Linked DNA regions of Homo sapiens: regions 1, 3 and 4 are each linked to region 2. Evidence: fine-mapped expression QTL. A gene starts in region 2. Each other region holds a variant in brackets. All regions are shown on one strand. Distances are from middle to middle.

What was found. PIP is the estimated chance that this variant, and not a neighbour inherited with it, causes the effect. A credible set is the group of variants that fine-mapping cannot tell apart.
Region 1: its variant is the best candidate, but not a certain one, in a credible set for the expression of PXYLP1 in thyroid (GTEx, PIP 0.73).
Region 3: its variant is the best candidate, but not a certain one, in a credible set for the expression of PXYLP1 in tibial artery (GTEx, PIP 0.89).
Region 4: its variant is the best candidate, but not a certain one, in a credible set for the expression of PXYLP1 in monocytes (CEDAR, PIP 0.90).

What each region holds. Positions count from the first base shown.
Region 1 is chr3:141,282,687-141,287,714 of GRCh38, forward strand. It overlaps PXYLP1 (2-phosphoxylose phosphatase 1), which reads left to right. Exons shown (of 6, transcript NM_001037172.3): 5 at 4,628-4,767. Among named protein-coding and RNA genes, the nearest start is that of PXYLP1, 53 kb to the left of the region's middle. The variant C/T (reference allele first, on the strand shown) is at 2,557.
Region 2 is chr3:141,228,708-141,233,735 of GRCh38, forward strand. PXYLP1 (2-phosphoxylose phosphatase 1) reads left to right here and starts at 3,118. Exons shown (of 6, transcript NM_001037172.3): 1 at 3,118-3,204. RefSeq lists a silencer at 2,857-3,236.
Region 3 is chr3:141,266,793-141,271,818 of GRCh38, forward strand. All of the region lies in intron 2 of PXYLP1 (2-phosphoxylose phosphatase 1), which reads left to right. Among named protein-coding and RNA genes, the nearest start is that of PXYLP1, 37 kb to the left of the region's middle. The variant G/A (reference allele first, on the strand shown) is at 2,894.
Region 4 is chr3:141,272,916-141,277,943 of GRCh38, forward strand. All of the region lies in intron 2 of PXYLP1 (2-phosphoxylose phosphatase 1), which reads left to right. Among named protein-coding and RNA genes, the nearest start is that of PXYLP1, 44 kb to the left of the region's middle. RefSeq lists an enhancer at 911-1,080. The variant T/TA (reference allele first, on the strand shown) is at 2,881.

The DNA of each region.
Region 1 (5,028 bases), 54 kb after region 2:
GCTGAAACTCAGAAGTGGCAGCAGAGATGGAGAGAGTGAGTGGGTCTTAGAGAAGGTTACAAGGTGGGATCAATAGGACTTGGTGGCAGGTTGGACAGGGGTATGAAAGGCAGGCCCGATGGGGCCCAGGTTTCTGACTGGGTGTCTGGCTGGTGGTGGTACCCCTCCCTGGAATTAGAGAACACAGAAGGGAGGTATGGGGGGAAGTTAGTACAGGCATTGGTGCTACATTTGAGCTATCATGAAACATTCAAGAGACAGTTTCTAGTCAGTAATAGGCTGTATAATTTTTTTTTTTTGAGACAGAGTCTCGCTCTGTCACTAGGCTGGAGTGCAATGGCATGAACTTGGCTCGTTGCAACCTCTGCCTCCCAGGTTCAAGCGATTCTCCTGCCTCAGCCTCCCGAGTAGCTGGGACTACAGGCACGCGCCACCATGCCCAGCTAATTTTTGTATTTTTTTTTTTTTTTATTTTTTAGTAGAGATGGGGTTTCACCATGTTGGCCAGGATGGTCTTGATCTCTTGACCTCATGATCAGCCCACCTCAGCCTCCCAAAGTGCTGGGATTACAGGTGTGAGCCACCCTGCCTGGCCTAGTCTGTATAATTTTGCAGCTCAGGGGCACTGGCTTGCTGGGAAAAAGAGGTTTAGTTGAGAATCTTCAGCATGTTGATGGCATTTGAAGCTGTGGGCTTATATTACAGACAGAACCTGAGGAGTGAGGGATGGGCCAAAACCAGAGTCCTGGGAAGCACCAGCATGTGGTACTCAGAGAGAAAAAGGATTTCAAAAGGGGCCAGGGATGTTGCAAATGGGGAAAAGTCAGGAGAGCAATGTTATGAGAGCTAAGGAAAGCAGGGCAATGCATTACATCAAGTAAGACCAAAAGGTCCAGAAAGCTAAAAACAAAGAAAAGTACACTGGGCTTATCTTTTCATAATCTCATGTTATTAATATGTAAGATGATAAATTCTTTAATTGGCATGAACTTTAAAAATCTAATGTGATTCCAGTTTCCAGCTATGTATGCTCTTTTGGATTGTGTTTTCTGGTAACAGTGTCACTGGTCGTCTGCCTCTTCTGCTTGCCTTAACATTCTGTGCAGAACTCAGTCATTGCTGAGATTTTAAATAAACAATAAATGTTCTCATGGGTGTGTGGATTAGCCTTGGGGTTCAGCCTCAAACTTTGTGGCATAAATAGATGTGAATAATGCATATAAAAGTGAAGATAAGGACTCCAAAGTGAATGACTTGAAGGCTTAAGATAGTAACACTTTTGATTATTTCAGTTTTCATTATGAAAGCAGATTTTCAATGAGCCCACAATAATATGAGTTTTTCCTAAAGAAAAATTTATTTTCATGGATATAATTATGTCTGCATTAGTCAGGGTACACCTATTTTGTAAGTTTATTTTGTAGCACAGGGACTCATGAATGCATTACCTTAAATAACAAGGAAGTTTAGCTCTTCCTCATGTGAAGGTCTGAAATGTGTGTTCCAGATTGTGCTAGTCAGCTCCACCTGGTCATTCAGGGCCCCAGGTTTCTTCCAGGTTGTTGTTTCTACCATCCCCTGGGGATGGCTACATGGTTGAACCCTGGTTGCTGCCATGCCTAAATAATGGCTGGAAGGAAGGAAGATAATGTGAACCGGGCATACACATGATCAGAAAGCCTGAACCCAGAAGTGGCATACATCTTTCCGTTCTGTTGGCGAATGCGGCTTTACCTCATTTCAGGACCTCAGAAATAGGATCTAACCAAGTTCTTAAGAAGAGAATAGATTTTAGTGTACGACTAGTACACTAGTCTCATCCACACTAGCCTTTAGTTTTAATACAGTCATCCATAGAGGATTGGTTCCAGGATCCTCCTTGGATACCAGAATCTGAGATGCTCAAGTCCCTTATGTAAAATGGTGTTGTATTTACACAGAACCTGCGCACATTCTCCCATGTACTTTACATCATCTCTAGATTACTTATAACGCCAAACACAATGTAAATGCTGTGTAAATAGTTGTTATTTGTATTATTTTTATTGTTGTATTGTTATTTCTTATTGGGTTTTTTCCAAGTATTTTTGGATCCACAGTTGAATCTTCCAATGCAGAATCTGAAGAGATGGAGGGCCGACTATATTTTCATCAAAATCTGAATATTTTAACAAACCGTATGGGAACTTATCGTATTCATTTCTACAGATTATGGAAGGCTTGCTATTTTCATGAAACATCCAAGGATGGGACACTTCACAGTTGAATTCACTCACATATATTTTTAGAGCATCTGCTATGTGCTAAGCACCCTCTGGGCTCCAGGGATGGAGCAGTGGACCAGGCAGACAAGGCCTGGGTAGTCAGATCCAGGTCCAGGACTCGAGTTACCTGGTCTGCTTTCCACTAAAAAGATACAGCCATTTGTTGTCAAATGTTTTTTTTCTTTTTCTTTTTCTTTTTTTTTTTTTTTTTTTTGAGACAGGGTATCTCTTTGTCACCCAGGCTAGAGTACAGTAGTACAATCACAGCTCACTGCAGCCTCGACCTCCTGGA[C/T]TCATGTGATCCTCCTGCTTTAGCCTCCTGAGTGGCTGAGACTATAGGCCTGCGCCACCATGCCTGGCTAGTTTTTGTATTTTTTGTAGAGACATGGTCTCACTATGTTGGCCAGTCTCAAACTCCTGGCCCCAAGCAGTCCTCCCACCTCGGCCTCCCAAAATGCTGGGATTACAGGCATGAGCCACCATGCCCGGCCTGTTAGCTATTCTTTAAATGAAGTTTTTCTTCCACAAATCTTCATCTTTGCATGCCAAAAACAAACAACACAACAACAACAACAAAAAAAAACAAAAATAAAAAACATTGGAATGAATGCAGTTAGATATCATTAAGCAGTCAGATGCCCTGAAAACCTGGGTCACCTCAGCAAACACTTCCAGTCATGAAATTCCATTTCTAAAATTGGCAGCAAAGCTTTCTCAGATCCTCAAAAAAAGCTCCAACCTGAAATAATGGCCTGGTGCAGAACATTTGACTCCTGTTGATGGATAGCCTTTGTTTATGTGGATTACTCTTGGCAGCCTCATTGTCAGTCTGGACATTTTATTTCCCAGTTTGCAAACATTTATGTGCTTTAGCCTCAGGCAAAATAACGTACCCTGTTTTTGTGGAAAGGCATAACTCCCTTTAGCTATCCAGGGTGATTTATTAGACTATATTACATGTCTGGATTAGTATTCTCTAATTTAAAAACGTATTTTTAAAAGATGGATTTTTTTTTTAGCTTTATGTTGTTGATAGATAATAAACCCATTTTGGCAGCCATTTTTAAAGCACTTTCAAAGTTAACTGGGCCTTCAGACAGCAGGGGTTTGCCATTAGAACAGTTTATCTTTGCTTCTTTTCATGCTGATTCTTATAGAGTTTAGGCATGAACTACTCTATCTGTCCACTTCTCTTCAGCTGGAAAATGTATATACATTCATAGGCTACTTCATTATTCAAAGAAAAGATGTTTATATTCATAGGTCATTTCATTATTCAGGGTAATTGTATATTAGTGACTAGAAAGATTTACCACATATACTTTGTGGCAGAAATATAGATACTCTCAGATCTCATATATAAACTTTTTTTGACATTTATTATTACCCTATATTAAATGAGAGGTTGTATGTCCAAAACGTGGAGTGGATTGTAAAGAGGTATAGAGATCCTGGTTATCTTATTCAGTTAACAATTTTCCTAAAGGGGGATTTTTCAGAGGTCAGAAAAATTAAGGATTATGGGTGACCTTGATAAAGGATAGGGTAGATTTTCTAGGAGGAAGGGATAGCTCGTGGGAAGTGGTGGAAGTGTTGAAGAATGAGGTGCGTTGTGTGTTGGAGGAAAGAAGGCCTTTGGCTTGGCGTGGCCAGAGCACAGTATTAGGGTAGAGAGGGCCAGTGAGTACCAGGGCGAGGCCAGAATAGAGGGACAGGCTGTGTGTGGCCCCTTCCAGAAGGTGGTGATAGGGAAGGGCAGTGACTGGTCAGAGTTACCTTTTAAATCAATCCTTCTGGTGGTGGAGAAGGCAAGATTATTAGAGGGGCATGCTTAATCAGCAAGAAGACCAATAAAGAGCCCATTGCCAGCCAGACAAAAGCTGCCTGAGGCCAGAACCTAGGTAGTAGCTGTGAGGATGAAGGAGAAGGGGATGGAGAAGCACCAGGAGAAAGAATCTGCAAGACATGGGGAGCAGACAGCATGTGCAGGGGCAGGGAATGGAGAGAGTGGGACGATGCCCAGCCTAGGCGTGACTGCTGGGTGGGTGTTGGCGGCCTCCCGGAGAGCGAGCCCGGAAGGCAGCACAGGTTGGGGAGCCGGAAGATAGACGGCGAAGCTGAATCCCACAGTACTGAGTTCAGCAGAGGTTAGGAACTCTGGCCAACCTCACAGAGGGGATTTCATGTGTCAGTGTCAGTGGTCGAGAAATAATGAAATTGGAACTGAAAAGTGATTGAGCCGGTACCTGTTACTGTGGGTGCAAAAGGCTGCGATACACGTGGGATTTGGCTCGCTGAAGCTGGAAACTGTTTGGATTCTTGTGGAGCACTCTGACCTCTAACTCTCTCTATCATCTCTCTAGGAAACCGTATCACCCAAAACTGGAAGCTTTCATTAGTCACATGTCAAAAGGATCCGGAGCCTCTTTCGAAAGCCCCTTGAACTCCTTGCCTCTTTACCCAAATCACCCATTGTGTGAGATGGGAGAGCTCACACAGACAGGTATGTGTGACCCCCATGCGCTCAGGGGTTCCCCCACCCGCTCTTCTGCTTGCATACCTTCCGAGCAGTTCTCCTGGGCGGGGTGCTGTGCAGCTCAGAGGGGGTAAGCAAGGACTGGCTCTGCAAGGAGCTCGGTCACCAGGGCCTCTAAATAAACATCAGAGTTCTCAAAACTAAATAGAACCTTTCTCCTTCTTACAAAAACAATACGTGTTCATGAAAATAATTTAGGAAAGACAAGTAAAAAGAAGAAAAAGTTTA
Region 2 (5,028 bases):
AAGCTGGACACCTGCTCCCAGTTGCTTATAGTCTAGGAAGGGATCACTTGTGTAACATGGGAGCAAATGCTGCCTAGCGGAATATTCGTGACTTGGGTGAGTCTGGGACTATTTTTATAAGATGGGTGGGCTCTGCTTTTAATGAATGTTGAGGGTTTCCTTGGAGGTCAAGATGTGAATTTGGAAAGGACAAAGGAGCAGGCTGGGAATAAGAGGGGAGACAAAAGTTATTGAGCATACTGCATGCACTTTTCATTTCTACAGTTTACAGTTACCAAAGAGGATGGCTTGCTCATTTATCATATGAATAACGGTGATGATAGTTGCTATTTTACAGGAACTAATGTGTGAGGTCCTATGCTAGAGGCTTATACTAGTCAAGACTCTCTTGGTTGCAAGTGACAGAGAAAGCCAATTCTAATTTGCTTGGGGGAAAATGGGGTATTTACTGGAACACGTACTTGAAAAATCCAGTGGTATGTGGGATTCAGGCACAGCAGAAACCTGCCTATGACATCCATTCTGTTGTGAAGGTAAACAAAAAAGAAAGAAAGAAAGAAACCTGCCTATCTCACCACTCTGCTTTCCTCTGTCAGCTGCAGTCTCTGGCACAGTCTCCCCAGGTGCTGGCCAGATGGTCCCCAGCTGTGTCAGGCTGCCATCCTGCCTCTTCAGCAACCACGGAGGAAAGAGATTTAGTGGGAGTAATGGTCTTGAGATGCTTCCTCATATCTATTTTCCCTGTAGGAAGCTTTTCTTTTTTCTTCCCTATAGCCCCTTTCTCCATTAAGGCTCGGTGGGTACCACTCAGAACCCAGAGTCCACAGGGGGAGGAGATGCCTCCTCTAGAATGGAAGGTAGCATAGACATCCTCAGGGAATCGGGAAGGTGAGGTAAAGAAACAGGATGTGAGTCTAGGGAGTGTATGATGCCTGATTCCATGAGGGCCTGAGGCTATCCCTATACCAAGTGTGGACCTAGGGAAGGGGGTGGTACAAAGACACAGATCTCAGATAGGTTAAGGAGGAAGCTGAAAGCAGAAAGGGCCTGTGTCCTATCTCCAGGCTGAGACTCTGCCCCCACAGTATGCCCTGCGCTGTCAAGCAAAGCGCTGGTGTGGCAAATTTTGCAGAGAAATGGCTAGAGATGGTGCCCTGAGTTACCTTTAGTCCCCTTGTGACAGAGAAGGGATCCAAGAGTGCCTACATGCTCCCTGCTGAGGGTGATAGTGTGTCCACGAGTGAACCCACCTGCCATGGAGTCACAGAGGCTGAGAGCACAGCATGGACATGTGGCCCAATCCTGCAAACAAAGCCAGGTCCAAGGCTAGTTGCAATGGCTGGCAGAGAAGCTGATTTTCTGCTAGAACTAGAGCTGTGAGGCTGTGAGCCTGGATCTGCCAGGGTCTCATGTGCGCATGAAAGCGTAGTTCATGTGGAAGACAGCAAAACTGAGACGGGGAGTCCCTGAGACCCTGGGACTAAAGCCAGGCCTGAAGCAGACAGGCTCTTCATGTACACAGCGGATCAACCCTTTGTGATTTAAGTTAGTGTGAATTGGGTTGTCTTTTACAGCAGAAAGCACCTTGACTAACCCATGTAGAGAAGAGGGTGACAGTGTGAGCTAAGCAGTAGAGCCTGCAATCCGTGAGAGGACAATCAGAAGGGGCAGAGGAGACATTGTTGGGCGGGCTGCGGTGGGCTTCTGTGGGGGCCAGGTGGGAGAGTTGGGGGTGATGCCAAAGGGGACAGTGAAAAGATTTTGTGCTCATGGATTGGGAGAGGCTGTCAGTATTCAGGGCAGAAAAAAGGCCCGGGATAGCGCTGCATCGGGGGAATACCAGAGGCGGACAGGCAGCAAAGTCCGGTACTGACGAGCCATTAAGGCACCTGATGAAGAAGGCATGACAGGTGGCTGAGAGAATGGCGAGACCACGGGGATAAATGGAGTTGGGAGCTTGGAAGAGGTAAAATTTAGTGCCAGACGTGGTAACTTGAGGAGGAAAGTTCTAAGAAAAAAACCGGAGGGTAGGGGGAAATATGGCTAACATATCTGAGCCAAGTGTGTGGATTTGAGAGCCATCAATCAAGGAGAGAAAGCAGAAGTCAAGGGATGAGATCCTCCCAAAGGTGCACCTCAAAGGTATATAGTAGCAAATTCGAATCCGTATCTATTTTGCCTGAGGCTAGTTGTGCTAGGACACACAGGGTTGCTGTAGACCTCGAGCTGACAGCAAAGACCTCTCTGATAATCGCTGTTGGTCGTTTCATCTCCCACAGAGAAATCTGGTGGAAATCTCCACCAGCTGGAACCTAACATTTGCAATAAATGACCCACAAATACTGATCAAACCAAATACAACCGTTCGCCTATCAGATGTCTAACGGGGCGTTACAGGCAGCCCTCAAGTGCTCTGAGGATCTTCAGCAGCGGCTCCAAGGAAGCCGCGGGCCGGGAGCAGGTGGGAAGGGCGACTGCGCGGGGCCACGACCTCCCCGGGTCTCTGCAGACCGTTGGAGACGGAGCAGCAGCGAGGACTAGAGCAACACAAGGCCGGATGTGTTCTGAGCCGGAAGAGGAGTGTGGGATAGGCCGAAAGGGGTGGGGGGTGGGGGGTGACAGTTTGGGTCTACGTGGCAGCAGGCGCACCCCAGACGCGCGCGCCCACCCGGCGATAGCATCAGCGGCGCCAGGGCAGGCACATGGCCCCAAAGCACCCACACTAGGGCCCGGGCCGGCCAGGGCTGTGTTCCTGGGCCTTGGCGCGCCTCCGCGCAGTCCCTGATCGCAGGTCAGGAGTTGTGAGGCACGCGAGAGCCCTGCGCGTCTGTGGTCGTGGTCCCTGCGCGCTCGGCTTGTCCGTGCCCGTGGCTTTGCACGCCGAGGGCTCTGCAGACTGACCAGTCTCTCCGGGCTGTGCTGGGCCTCCCAGAGGCAGTGTCCTCTCAGCAACCCCGCGCGGTCGCCCCCGCCCAGCCGCACCGCAACACCGCCTCCGGGGCGGAGCTCCAGGGCTCCTGGTGCAGGGCCGGCCGAACTGAGACGGGGCGCGGCGGGGTCGGCAGGGGGCGCTGCCGGGCCCCGCGAGCTCCCCGGTGGCGGGTGCGCGCCGCCCTCGCCTCCCCTCGCGCCGGGAGGAGCTGGCGGCGAGCGCCGAGCCGGGCGCGCAGCGACGGAGCTGGGGCCGGCCTGGGACCATGGGCGGTGAGTGCGGCGCGGGCCTGGGCCGGGGCGGTTGCCGTTGGGGCCGAGCAGCGCAGAGGTTCTAGGCGGGTGGGCGTCCAGGGTCCGAGGTTGGGAGACTGAGGGGGTCCCCCTAACTCGCCAGTGGGAGAGGGGCGGGAAGGCTGGGGGCGCTTCGAAGCGTCGGGTCCGAATCCCGCGACTAAGCCTCCTCCTTTATCCCCGCGCTCGCCCCTGAGCCTAGGACTTGCGCCCTCTTTCCTGCCACTCCCCCCGTGCGCCCGGTGTCCCAGCCCCGGCGCCCGCCCCATAGCCCCCTTCTCCCAGAGCTGGCGCCGTCTCACGCCCGCTGCGAACCCCCGGCTCTGTCTCCAAGCCCTCGCCCCCCGCAGCCCCGCACTCTCCCGCGGAGCCCGCCTCCACCTCGCCCCCGCCCTTCCAGCCCTCTCCCGCACGGCCCCCGCACTCCCGCCGCTGGATTCCAGCCGAGATTCAAGCTCCCGGGATCCCCCTTCCCGGGCGGTCCTGAGCCGGCTAGTCTCCAGGTAAGGAGGCGGCCGCAACTTCGCGGCCTTTCCCGGAGACGGGGCTGGCTCCTCTTGGCAGCCACCTGCAGCCTGACGCCTCCGGGAGTCCCGGGCCTGGCCACGGGGCCGCCCGAGCGCAGGTTAACATTCCTGGATGCGCAGGTTAGGACCGTGTGGTGTAGACCCACGACGTTGCTTTTGCTGGTGAACTTGCCTATGTCCTGATCTTTTAAATAAGCTGGGTTTGTCACACACACACACACAGAGAGAGAGAGAATGGATTTGCTTAGGGTAGGTTGCCTGCTTTGCAGCCGCAGCTGCCTTTTAAATTGTACCTGTGGATGGTAAAGGATTCACGGTGCAGGACGTGGAGCCATATTTTCCCGCTTCGGCTGTGAGTTCAGCGATTGCGAGGGGGCTCTGTAGTGAGTGAGGTTATCACCGCCTGGCTAGCCAGTGTCTTTGTGGAAAGGCAAGGATCCTTTGTAAGCATTCAACAAGTAAAATCAGGAGAGATGGGGAATCAGATCGAGCTGTGAATGGGGAAGTGTAGGGGGGTGGATGGGGGATCGGAGAGTGCTCCACAAATGGAGCCGTTTGTTGATATTTGCAGAAGGCCCGTGGGTGTGAAGCTGGCAGTGCGGAGCCCACCCTTTCAAACGGGATGCGACTGCGGTCGGGCTTGGCAGTAACTTACCCTCCTCAGAGGTGTTGGTGCCCAATCGGGACATCTGTGGGAAGGGGATTTATAGCAGATGGATCAAAAGGCCTCGGGCGCGGTGGCTCACGCCTGTAATCCCAGCACTTTGGGAGGCCGAGGCGGGCGGATCACCAGAGGTCGGGAGTTCGAGACTAGCCTGACCAACATAAAAACCCCGTCTCTACTAAAAATACAAAATTAGCCAGGCGTGGTGGTGCATACCTGTAATCCCAGCTACTCAGGAGGCTGAGACAGGAGAATCGCTTGCACCTGGGAGGCAGAGGTTGCAGTGAGCTGAGATTGCGCCATTGCACTCCAGCTTGGGCAATAAGAGCAAAACCCTGTCAAAAAAAAAAAAAAAAAAAAAACCCTCGTGGTCCCTGGAGAGAGGTGAAGATGCACGGGACAGCCTGAAAGCCAGTGTATGAATCTGCCCCATCCCTTCTCCTGGCTTTCATTAAGTCTTGGATTAAATTAATTGCTTATCTCAGAGAAAGGATGTGTAGGGGGAACTTCTCTGTTAGGGATTGGCTCCTGGCCAGCCCATCCTCACTGATGCCTTGGGAGGCTGCGTTTGGGCACCAGGAACAGCGTGGGCCACCTGGCCTTTGGAGCACA
Region 3 (5,026 bases), 38 kb after region 2:
TCCTGTGGCCCTGATCCCCTATATCCCCTCCCTTTTTCTGTGCTGCTTTCAGTCTGATATCCGCTAAGAAAGAAAATAACAATGCTTGATAGAACAGTGTGTACATTAACATAGAACTGCCTCTGAGTAGGCAAGCAAGGAGCCCTGACAGGTGCCAGGGTGCTGTGACACCTTCCTCGGTGGTTCAGACCCTTGTGTCCTCAGTCCTGCTCACTCTTGTAGATGGCCATTAGCATTTGTGGTTTCGACTCTTTGCAGGGACCCCTGAGATCTGTAGTATATGGTGATAGTGATTCTGCCGAGGCACACGTCTTGATGAAAGTAGCAGGAAGTGAGCTGCTCAGCTGCTGAGGGAGCCACGTCCTGCCACACAGCCAGGGGAGGTGGTCGTCCTCTGTTCTTTGTCCTGTGTACGTTCAGTGGAGAAAAGTACAGAGTGGTATGTTTGAATGTGGGGATGCGTGAAGATCTCAGTATGCTTCATGGAAAAGATTTGGGGATGCAAGCCCTTAGAATGCACAGGGTCTAACGTACTGCGTCCTCTATTCTAAAAGCCCCAATGCGCTTCCTCCTGAGCTTTTATTTTGTTCAGCTGGAGACAAAAAGTATGAGAAATTGAAAGTGAAGGTTTACATTGTTAACCTAAGAGTTCTGTCATATCGCCATCTCTTCATTGTGACCAAAGTTTTAAATTCTGTATTTTTTGTTAATTTTGGTCCTTTTCTTAAAGATTTTACTTTCTGTTTGATTTCTGGGAGTTTTAATTTGCTTTTCCTCAGAATGCTTTATGTCCAGTTGCCACATAGAGTTAAATATCTGCAGGTGAAAAAAAAAAAAACACCATAGATGAGTGACAAAATTAAATCTGACAAATAAGCTGTTGTCACAATTTCTTAAGCTCATGTTGTAGATGCATTGGAGTGGGAAGGTGAGAGTGTCATGTAGCAGGTTCTTCTGCAAGCTGAGAATGGACACATTTATGTCTGTGGGTCATTCCTAGTTTTCTTTCAGGGTGGAGCTAGATAATGACCTCCCTCCCTCCCTCTCTGTCTCCCTCCCTCCCTCTGTCCCTCTCTGTCTCTCTCCCTCTCTCCCTCTCTCCCACCTTCCCTTTCTCTCTTCTTCCCTTTTTTCTTCTTAGTTCCTTATCTTAAAGAAGTTCTCATCAATAATTAGATGAGGGGATAGAGATATCTGTTTAAAGATGTTTACTGCAGCATCATTTGTAATAGGAAACAAAGGAGAAGGCAACCAACGTGTACAACAGTAAATACCCCATTACCTCATGATCACATAGACCTGTCTCTATTGACTTGGAAGGTTGTGCATAATATATTAAATTTTAAAATGGTACCTTTATATGCGGGTGGGTGGGGGAGAGAGAGAGAGAGAGAGAGAGAGAGAGAGAGAGAGAGTGTGTGTGTGTGTGTGTGTGTGTGTGTGTGTGTGTCTTGAGTCAGCAAGAGCAAATACTATCACGGCTAGTTAGTAAAAATAGAAAGCATTAGTAGAAGTATTCAGTGAATTCAGGAAAGTGCCTGGAGATCTCTAAGATCCACTGAAGAGATGAACAGAATAGAAAGCCACAGGATTTATGTGGCTGTACCCACTGCAGGGAGAGCGCGAGGCCAGCTGGAGTCTGGCAGGCAGAGTGTGCGCCTGCTGAGCCAAGCCACGCAGTGCAGACCCCGCTCACTCCCTGTTGTCTTGGCAACAGGGCTTTGGCCCCATGCTGATGACATTAAAAGGAGGAAGCCCACCTTGAAATGAAGTGAGTGCTGATCAGAGGCAGAGCCCTGTTATGTACCAGCAGCCCCACCTCACAAGAGAGAAGGAAGAGGCTGATCTAAAAGAGGAGACAAGGGCAGAATCTGAATCCTGTACACGAGGGTGAAGTAGGGCGGGCACCTGGGAGGGAGCTCTGGGACTGCCTCACCATCCTGCCCTCACTACCATCCTGCCCTCCTGCCAGTGCGGCTGTCACACACACTACAGATGTTACCCTGTGCCTCAGAGCCGTAGCTCAGGGGTGGGCTCAGGTGGGAAAGAATGGGGAGGTGGCTGGGATGCATGGCCCCTCTCTAGGATTTATCTGGCTGGAGCTTCAGCATCACATCTTGCCTCTCTTTGCCTTTCTCTTTTCCCTGTGTCATCCGAGGGGCTGGACTCCACTGGCCAGGGGTCTGCCCGTCCACACCACCCCTAGGTATCTACCAGAGGGTGGGGCAGCTCTTGTGGGATGTCCACATGCCTGAGAGTGCAGGCCCCACCCTGGGCCACATTCTCTCTTTCCTTGAGGTGGCCTCCCCAAAGCCCCTCGCCTGTCTGGCTATGTCTTTTGAGCCTTTACACAGAAGGCAGACAACCCACCCACCCTCAAGGACAGGTTGCTGGTTTGGTGGCCTCAGTGGGTTGCAGACCTTTGAGACACAGGAAACTTATTTGCTCCTCTTGGGGAGAGAGAACAATGTCCTTGGGCCTGAGTGACCATCCGTCACCATTCCCACCGGAGCAGGGACAGAAGCACATGTTTAGCCTCTGGCAGGGCACATATATACTCAAATACTAAAATATTCCTTATGGGGTTCTCTGGGTGGTAGGATTTATGGGTGATTTTCCTTTTCTTTTTATACTTTAGTGTTGAATGACTATTTTATGATGAACTCATGTTTTTTATGACCCCTTTTTATTTTGAAAAAAGAAAATCTGTTCATCTCTTCTTGAGTGTTGAAATTGAAAACCTGTTTCCAGGTACTTTGGGTTCTTAGCCTGAACCTGTGGACTTCTGCATTGTCCCATGGGGTTTCAGGGGTCTTGTAAACCCCCAGAAGTCCAATTCACAAGACTGTGTTCGCATCGTCTTTCAGAGATGAGGATCAATCGTTTTCATCAG[G/A]TTCTCAAAGATGAGGGTCATAACCTTCATGACCCAAAAAGGTTAAGGAGACAGGTTCTTTTCATGGTTCTTTTTGGAGGCCTGTCCTGGAAATCTCTTATTTCTAGTTTCTGTCTTGAGTGTGTGGTGATTTGGAGTCTGGTGTTGGCATCATCTAATCCAATGGCCCTGTTAGGGTAAGGCCAGTTACCAGCAGCTCCCAGAAGAGTGTGGGGTTTCCTGACTCCTCTGAGAGGCTGCAACTGGGGCTCAAGCCCAGGCCACAGGGGGAGCCCCCATGCCCAAGCAATGGGTGGACTTAGGTCCCAGAGGCAAATGTCAGAGGAAAGGGTCAAGGAGGGAGGAGATAGAGCGTGCAAATAGCCCAGGGAGCAGAGCTCCAGGCTGATAGGATGTGCCCAGCCCTGAACTCTGCTGGAGTTCTCCGGCTCCCTGAATGCTACCAGGCGTATCAGAAGCACTTAATAAATTCTTACCTAATGTGGTTCACCATGAAGCAACATTAAGAATGAGGAAAACAAGAAAGGTTGGTGTATTGCAGCTCAAAGTGGATAGATCAAAATGGCAAGAGCAGATTCAACTGTTTGATCAATCTCATTTATGTAAAACCAAGTGTCTCAAAGTCTACAAATGTGGGCTTGACTTTTCCCATTTCACCTGTATAACATGATTCCCACTCCAGCCTTTAAAAGCAGACGATGAGAGGCAGATAACAACTGTGGACTCTTCGTTGTGGTTCTGGTTTTCATTTGACAGTTACAGTGCACTTTTAAAATTCAGTACAGGTTAGAGACAGGGCGGGCATTTAAGATAATTTAGTGGGTTGAGGAGCACTAAGGGAATTGTGGGAACTGACAGAGCGCGTCATTATTCCTTGGCAGACCAGTGAAGGAGAGAGAATTCAAGAACCTTTTGGTTTATTTGCGGGGAGAAATTGGAGAAATTAGGTGGCAGGACTGGGGGTGTTTTAGCTTATGAGGAGACGCTATCTCAGATAAGCTGAATGTATTTAAGGGAGCCAGAAAAGCTGCTAAAATTGGAGTGGCCAAGAGGAGAAGGGAGATTGGCTGGTTGTGCTTTTGTGAAGGGGTGGACGCAGGGGTTTGATATCCCTTCCAGATCCCAAGTTGAAGGGAGCGCCTTTTAAGAGCCTGCAGGAAACAGGAATAATCACATCCAGGGGATGGATGTAGAAAATAGCATTCATTCATTCATTCATTTATAAGATGGAGTCTCACTCTGTCACCCAGGCTGGAATGCAGTAGTGTGATCAGGGCTCACTGCAGCCCCGAACTCCTGAGCTCAAGCGATCCTCCTGCCTCAGTCCCCTGAGTAGCTGGAACTCTAGGCATGTGCCACCATATCCTGCTCACTTTTTAAACATTGAAAATAGTATTTCTTGATTCCTTACCAGAATCCATTCACAGGTGGTATCTCAACATCATCATTACCACCCTGATCTGTAGGTATCATCACCTTCATTTGACAGATGAAGGAAATGAGGCACAGAGAGGCAGGGATACTTGCCCCAGGTCACACAGCTAGGAGGTAACAGAGCCAGGACATGAATTCACATCTTTGTAATACTATAGCTCATTTGCAGCCCCCAGCCCCAGGCTACCTCCCTGCATTCAGAACCATGGTAGCAGGGGCAACTGAGGACAGATGTCAGTGGAGTTCCAAGGAAAAAGTGACTGTAGTCCCCTAAGGAAGTGACTAGCCCAGTGTTGAAGTCCCAAAAAGGGCAAGGCAGACCCTGGAGCTAGGAAGGTAAACAGATAGTGGAGCTGGACCTTGGCCCCAAGAGGTTCTTTGCTGGTGTAGTCAGTGGGGTGACTTGTGTGGCAGCTGATCCCAGAGCAATGGAGACAGAGCTGAGCCAACACTTTAGCCTCATCATGCTCACATTTCCCGGGAAACTCTGGGTCCCTGATACCCAACTGTAATCTGCCAGGTATCTGTGTAATCAGAAGAAGGCTGACAGCCAAATCACACAAGCATGGGGATGGCAGGAGGGAGGGGTTTGGAAGCCATCTGACTCCCACTGCAGAAGTGTCTTCCACATGGGACAGCCTGTCTTTCCTGGAAAGGTCCCTTTATTAGCACAGCTGCCTAGAGTCAGGTCCTCATCCC
Region 4 (5,028 bases), 44 kb after region 2:
ACCAAGGAGCAATACTTTGTGTTCTTCAACCCAATCAAGTGGACACCCAGTATTAACCATCACATCTGGTAACTTCCCAATATTTCCTTTATATCCATGTCTTCACTGCATCGTTTCCATACCTGCACCCCCCAACCAGCAACCAGTGAGTGCAGGGGGCCCCGTGCCTGAGAAGGCTATTTTCTCCTTATGGTCCATGTGCTTTCTCCCCACCTTTTCTTATTTAATGTCTGACTGTCCCCCGCAACTGGATTGTAAACCCCGTGAGGGCAGAGACCTTGTCCATTTTATTCTCTGAAGAATCCCCAGCATGTGCTCCATACATGTTGGATGGCCAGATGGACAAATGCATAAATACCGAGCTTAGTGGGTGAGCAGGTCCGGGCTTACAGGCTTCAGGACCTTAGGTAACTCCCTTGACCTGCCTCTGCCTAAGGTCTACTGTCTGGCTGATGGTTACTCTTCCTAGGTTGAGATCCAAAGCTGGGAAAAGCAGAGAGAGGATCAGTTTGGCTTGCATCCTAGCTATAGCTATGGGAATGTTTACTAGTAATACATACAGAGTCATCCACTGTGCATTCGGGAGATGGGGTGGGGAAGGGTGGTGGGGAGGGAGCCTGCGTGGGATAGCATCTGGTTGTTTTACTCATGATTCTAAGAAATTTGTTGGTTGCTTTTGAGAGGGAGGGTCCCAAGGAGATGCTTTAGAGGTCATGTTCTCTGCCATTTCTTTGAAATTGAGACCTTGTCGGCATCTTTACACATGAGGGTTATAGATGTGTGGACAGGATGAAAGTGATCGTAGATGAGATGAGCAGAGAACACCGCCATAAAAGAGAGGCTTATTTCCAAAGGTAGCTTACGGAAATTTGCCCTCCTACTTGGTAATCACACCACAGAGAAATTGCATGCCCGTTGGTACAGAGTTAATCATCAGTAAAAGATATCTCGTATCCTGTTATTCGTGTTGGTCCTGGTGGCACAGTGGCCCCAGGACACTCATTTAGATTCATGGGTTTTCCCACCTACATAATGAAACTCGTTATCCTTCCATCTATTTATCTGCCCACTATTCTTTCTGATGCCCCCACAGCCTCTTTCTCTTGCCCTGTGACATCTGAGCTGCTGTCATCTGCCTGAGGTCAGCAGAGTTTCTAATTGTTCCACAGGACAGCTAGAGGCACGGGGGGCCTGGGCAAAGCCTGCTGGGAGGAGCAGTGTCCTGGAGCAGTGTCTGCCCCCAGCCCCTGGGTCTGTCCCTCAGCTCCCTTTATCTAGGTGATCGGGGCAAGCCTCAAGAGCTGATGTGGTGAGTAGCACAGCACCAGGGCAGAGGCGGCCTGCAGCCCGGGGTCTGCTCCTCCAGGCCCCTTCCCAGCCTTCCTCCTGGAGCCCGGCCTGCACATCGACCCTGGTGAGGCCAACCTGACCAGGCCTTACGGGACCCAAGGCGTATCCTGAGCCAGCTTGCTGACCCCCATCTGCCATGTTTGGCTGTGTTTCACGGCCTCCCCTCTGCTCCTCTCCTCTTCCCCTCCACACAGCCAGCTTCATCAGTTTTTCAGGCCCAGCTAGGTGTCTCCTCTGGGAAGCCTGTTTGGATGCCCCTCACCCCAGACTGGTTCGGCAACCCTCAGTGCTCCACATGAGGAGTCAATGAGATATTTCATCAAAAGCATGGAGCACAGCGTCTGCCCCAGTTCAGCAGGTATTTTTGGAAGACCTATCCTCTGTCAGTCAGCGGGGGATATAAATGTGAAAGACGCACACTCCCAGCCCTCTGGATGTTTGGGATGGCAGGGTGACAAACTGGGACACCCCTGCTTGCATATACTATGCTGTGAGCCATGACGGCAGCAGGAACTGGGTAGGCTCATAGAAGAGGATGTGGGAACTGGGGATTCAGGGCGGGCTTCCTGGAGGAGGTGACCCTAGGATCAGTTACAGTGTTGGTCAGATTTCGGGAGCAGAGGGTGAGAGTAGAGTTGCCAGCAAACGGTGGAGCATAGGCGAGAAACATCCTGTGGGGTGGGATGGCTCAGAGCAGCTCAGAACAGTGAGAACCAAGTTGGGATTGGGGTCAAGATGGAGCTGGGGAGACTTCTCCTCACAGCTTCTATGTGTCAGGACCTGTTTTGAATGCCTGGTATTGGGAAGGCCCCTTGTGAACTGATGCTATGTCCTGGTGACTCAGGGAGGTACAAATAGTACAGGGTGATCTCACACTCTGAACTAGTAGACACAGTTGACAGGCCCAGATACCAGAGGAAGCAGCAGATAAAATCTTTCTGGAGAGAAGGTCTCATTCTGATCTTTATCTGTGGTTTTCAAACCACTGCTTCCTTGGGTCATGGGTGGGTCATTTGCACCCAACCACCATGGTTCCCAAATGGCAGCCACAACAGGCCTCACCCCGGGTGCTTATAGATGAACTAGCAAACTGTGGGCACTCTAGGACACCCACTGTCCTCACCTGTGCCCCTCCATTTCTGTGTCACTCATATTATCCTGTCTCCTTAGCTGCTTCTGTCCCTGGCCCAGACTCCAAGGGAGTGTGCCCACAGGCATGGCCAAGGGGCCAGGACTTGGTAGATTTCACAAAAGAGCAGAATCAAGGACTGAGCCAGCCAGAAGGGCCAGGTCACTAAGAGACTGCCTTAGCACTTTTCTATATTTCCGTGCTCTTGTGCTAATCCCCCTGTAGTGAATTCCCTCTGAACACCTGGGCTGTGTTAGCCATCCTAGCACCTTCCAACTACTGGAAAGAAAGTGGCCCTAGGAGCAACCAAAGGGCTAATGTTGGGTGGGTGAATCACCAGTTCTGTATCTCTGTGATTGTTGTTTTGGTAACACAAGTAATGAAGGGAAATACGTTCACTG[T/TA]AAAAAAAAAAAAAATGCTTACCTAGACAGCATAGAAATACAGAAATATATATTTCTATACATATAGAATACATTAATATGTGCTTACTATAAATACATATGCAGTCATGTACCACATAATGACTTCCATCAACGACAGAACACATATATGACAGTGGTGCCATATTATAATACCATATTTTTACTGTATTCTTTCTAAGTCGAGATATGTTTAGATACACAAGTACTTACCATTGTGTTACAACTGCTTACAACATTCAGTGCGGTAACATGCAGTTCAGGTTTGTAGCCTAGGAGCGGCAGGCTGACCAAATAGCCTAGGTGTGTAGAAAGCTCTACCATCTAGGTTTGTGTAAGTGCACTCTATGATGTTTACACTATGACAAAATTGCCTAAGGGCCATCTCTCAGTGCCTCCCCATTGTTACGCAACTCATGACTGTACGTATATGTGTGTGCGAATATACAAACAAGTAAAAATACTTTTTCACACCCCATTCCATCCTTTCCCAGAGGAAAACCACTGCTGTGTTATGATGGATAACCTTCTAGACATTTTTTCTATGCATTTACGTAATAAACAAATCCCTGTATATTTATGCATTTATGGTTTGTTTTTTTTCTTTACACAAAGAGGATTATATCAGTATACAGTGACTTGGTGTATTCACTTCACTTAATTTATCTTTGATTCTTTTCCCTTCTTTTTAACTGGGATAGAACATTCCACAGTAGGGACATAACGTTCTGTTCTGCTAGAGATGGATATTTAGGTTATTTCCCTTTTTTGTTATTACAAACAGCACTGCAGGGAATCTCTTTGGCCACACATTTTTGTGCGTGGGCATCGCTATCTTTATAGATACAGAATGGATTCCAAGACGTAGAATAACGAGATCGGGGGTAGTGCACATATACCATTTTGATGGCTACTGCCAAACACTCCCGAGAGGTGCCGGTTTCCACCCTCCCCATGATGTTTGGAAGCGTCAGGTTTCTCACACCCTTCCCAATATTGAGTGTTATCATTAAAACATGATTTTCCAGTTTGATGAGGAAAAATTATTAATATAGTCCACTGTTTGATTTATATTTCTTTAATTATGAATAAACAATTATGAAAAACAGTATCACACTGTTGTTTTATCTGTATCTAATTATGAACAAACTTAAGCATCTCTTCATGTGTTTATTGGCCATTGGTATTTATTTTTCTGCGATTAGCCTGTTCATATCCTTTAATGATTTTTCAGGTGTAGGGTCTCTTATGGACTTTGGATATTAATCATTTGTCTGTTAGGTTAGTTGCAAATATTTTTCTCTCAGTGTGTTGCCTTTTATCTTTGTTTATGGCATCTGTTTGCCAAAGGGAAGTTTTAAATATTTATGTAGAAGAATTTGTAGAAGTAATTAGGGAATTTACATTGATTTAGGCTGGTGGTTGGTCCCTGTTTTAGCTATTGTTCGTGCGCATGTGTAGATATTATGGTGATTAATAAATCTTTTAGAAGTTAAAAAGATCTGTGAGCACACTTATTTTCATGTGTTTCCCTCAAAGGGCGGATGCTGAAAGTATGACTATACTGTGTTGGGAGTTCTAGAGGATCTATGATGCTACAAAGACATTCCCTAGGCACGGAGAGATTAGGGACCACTGAGACAGAAGCTGTTCATGAGGGATAGATGGCTGGGCAGCCCCACATTTCCATTCTTACAGATTAGCATCCGAAAGAAAAAGAGCACCTCTTCTAGAGTCTGTATATCACCTGTCTCGAGGAAAGGGAGTCCAGTTGCCCCATTACTACCCTTATTGACTCTGGTCACATGTCCACCCCTGCCAGGGGGTGGGGACACTGTGATTGACAGTCCAGCCTGACCACACGTGGTGGTGAAGGGTCAGCTCACTAATGGAATGAGGGTAGTAGATGGACAAGCACACAGATTGCAAGACCCACACATGCCACGCCGAAGACAGTGGCAGGGAAGCTGGCCTGAAGTCAAGGAGTAAGCGTGAGACAGGCTTTCACCCACCACACATGCCTTGGTCCTTGGCTTTCTTCTGTAAAGTGCTCTCATGGGTTAGATGAGCGACTCTGAAGGCCCACAAAGCATAAAGCAGATGATGATAAATGGGATATGTCAGACACCC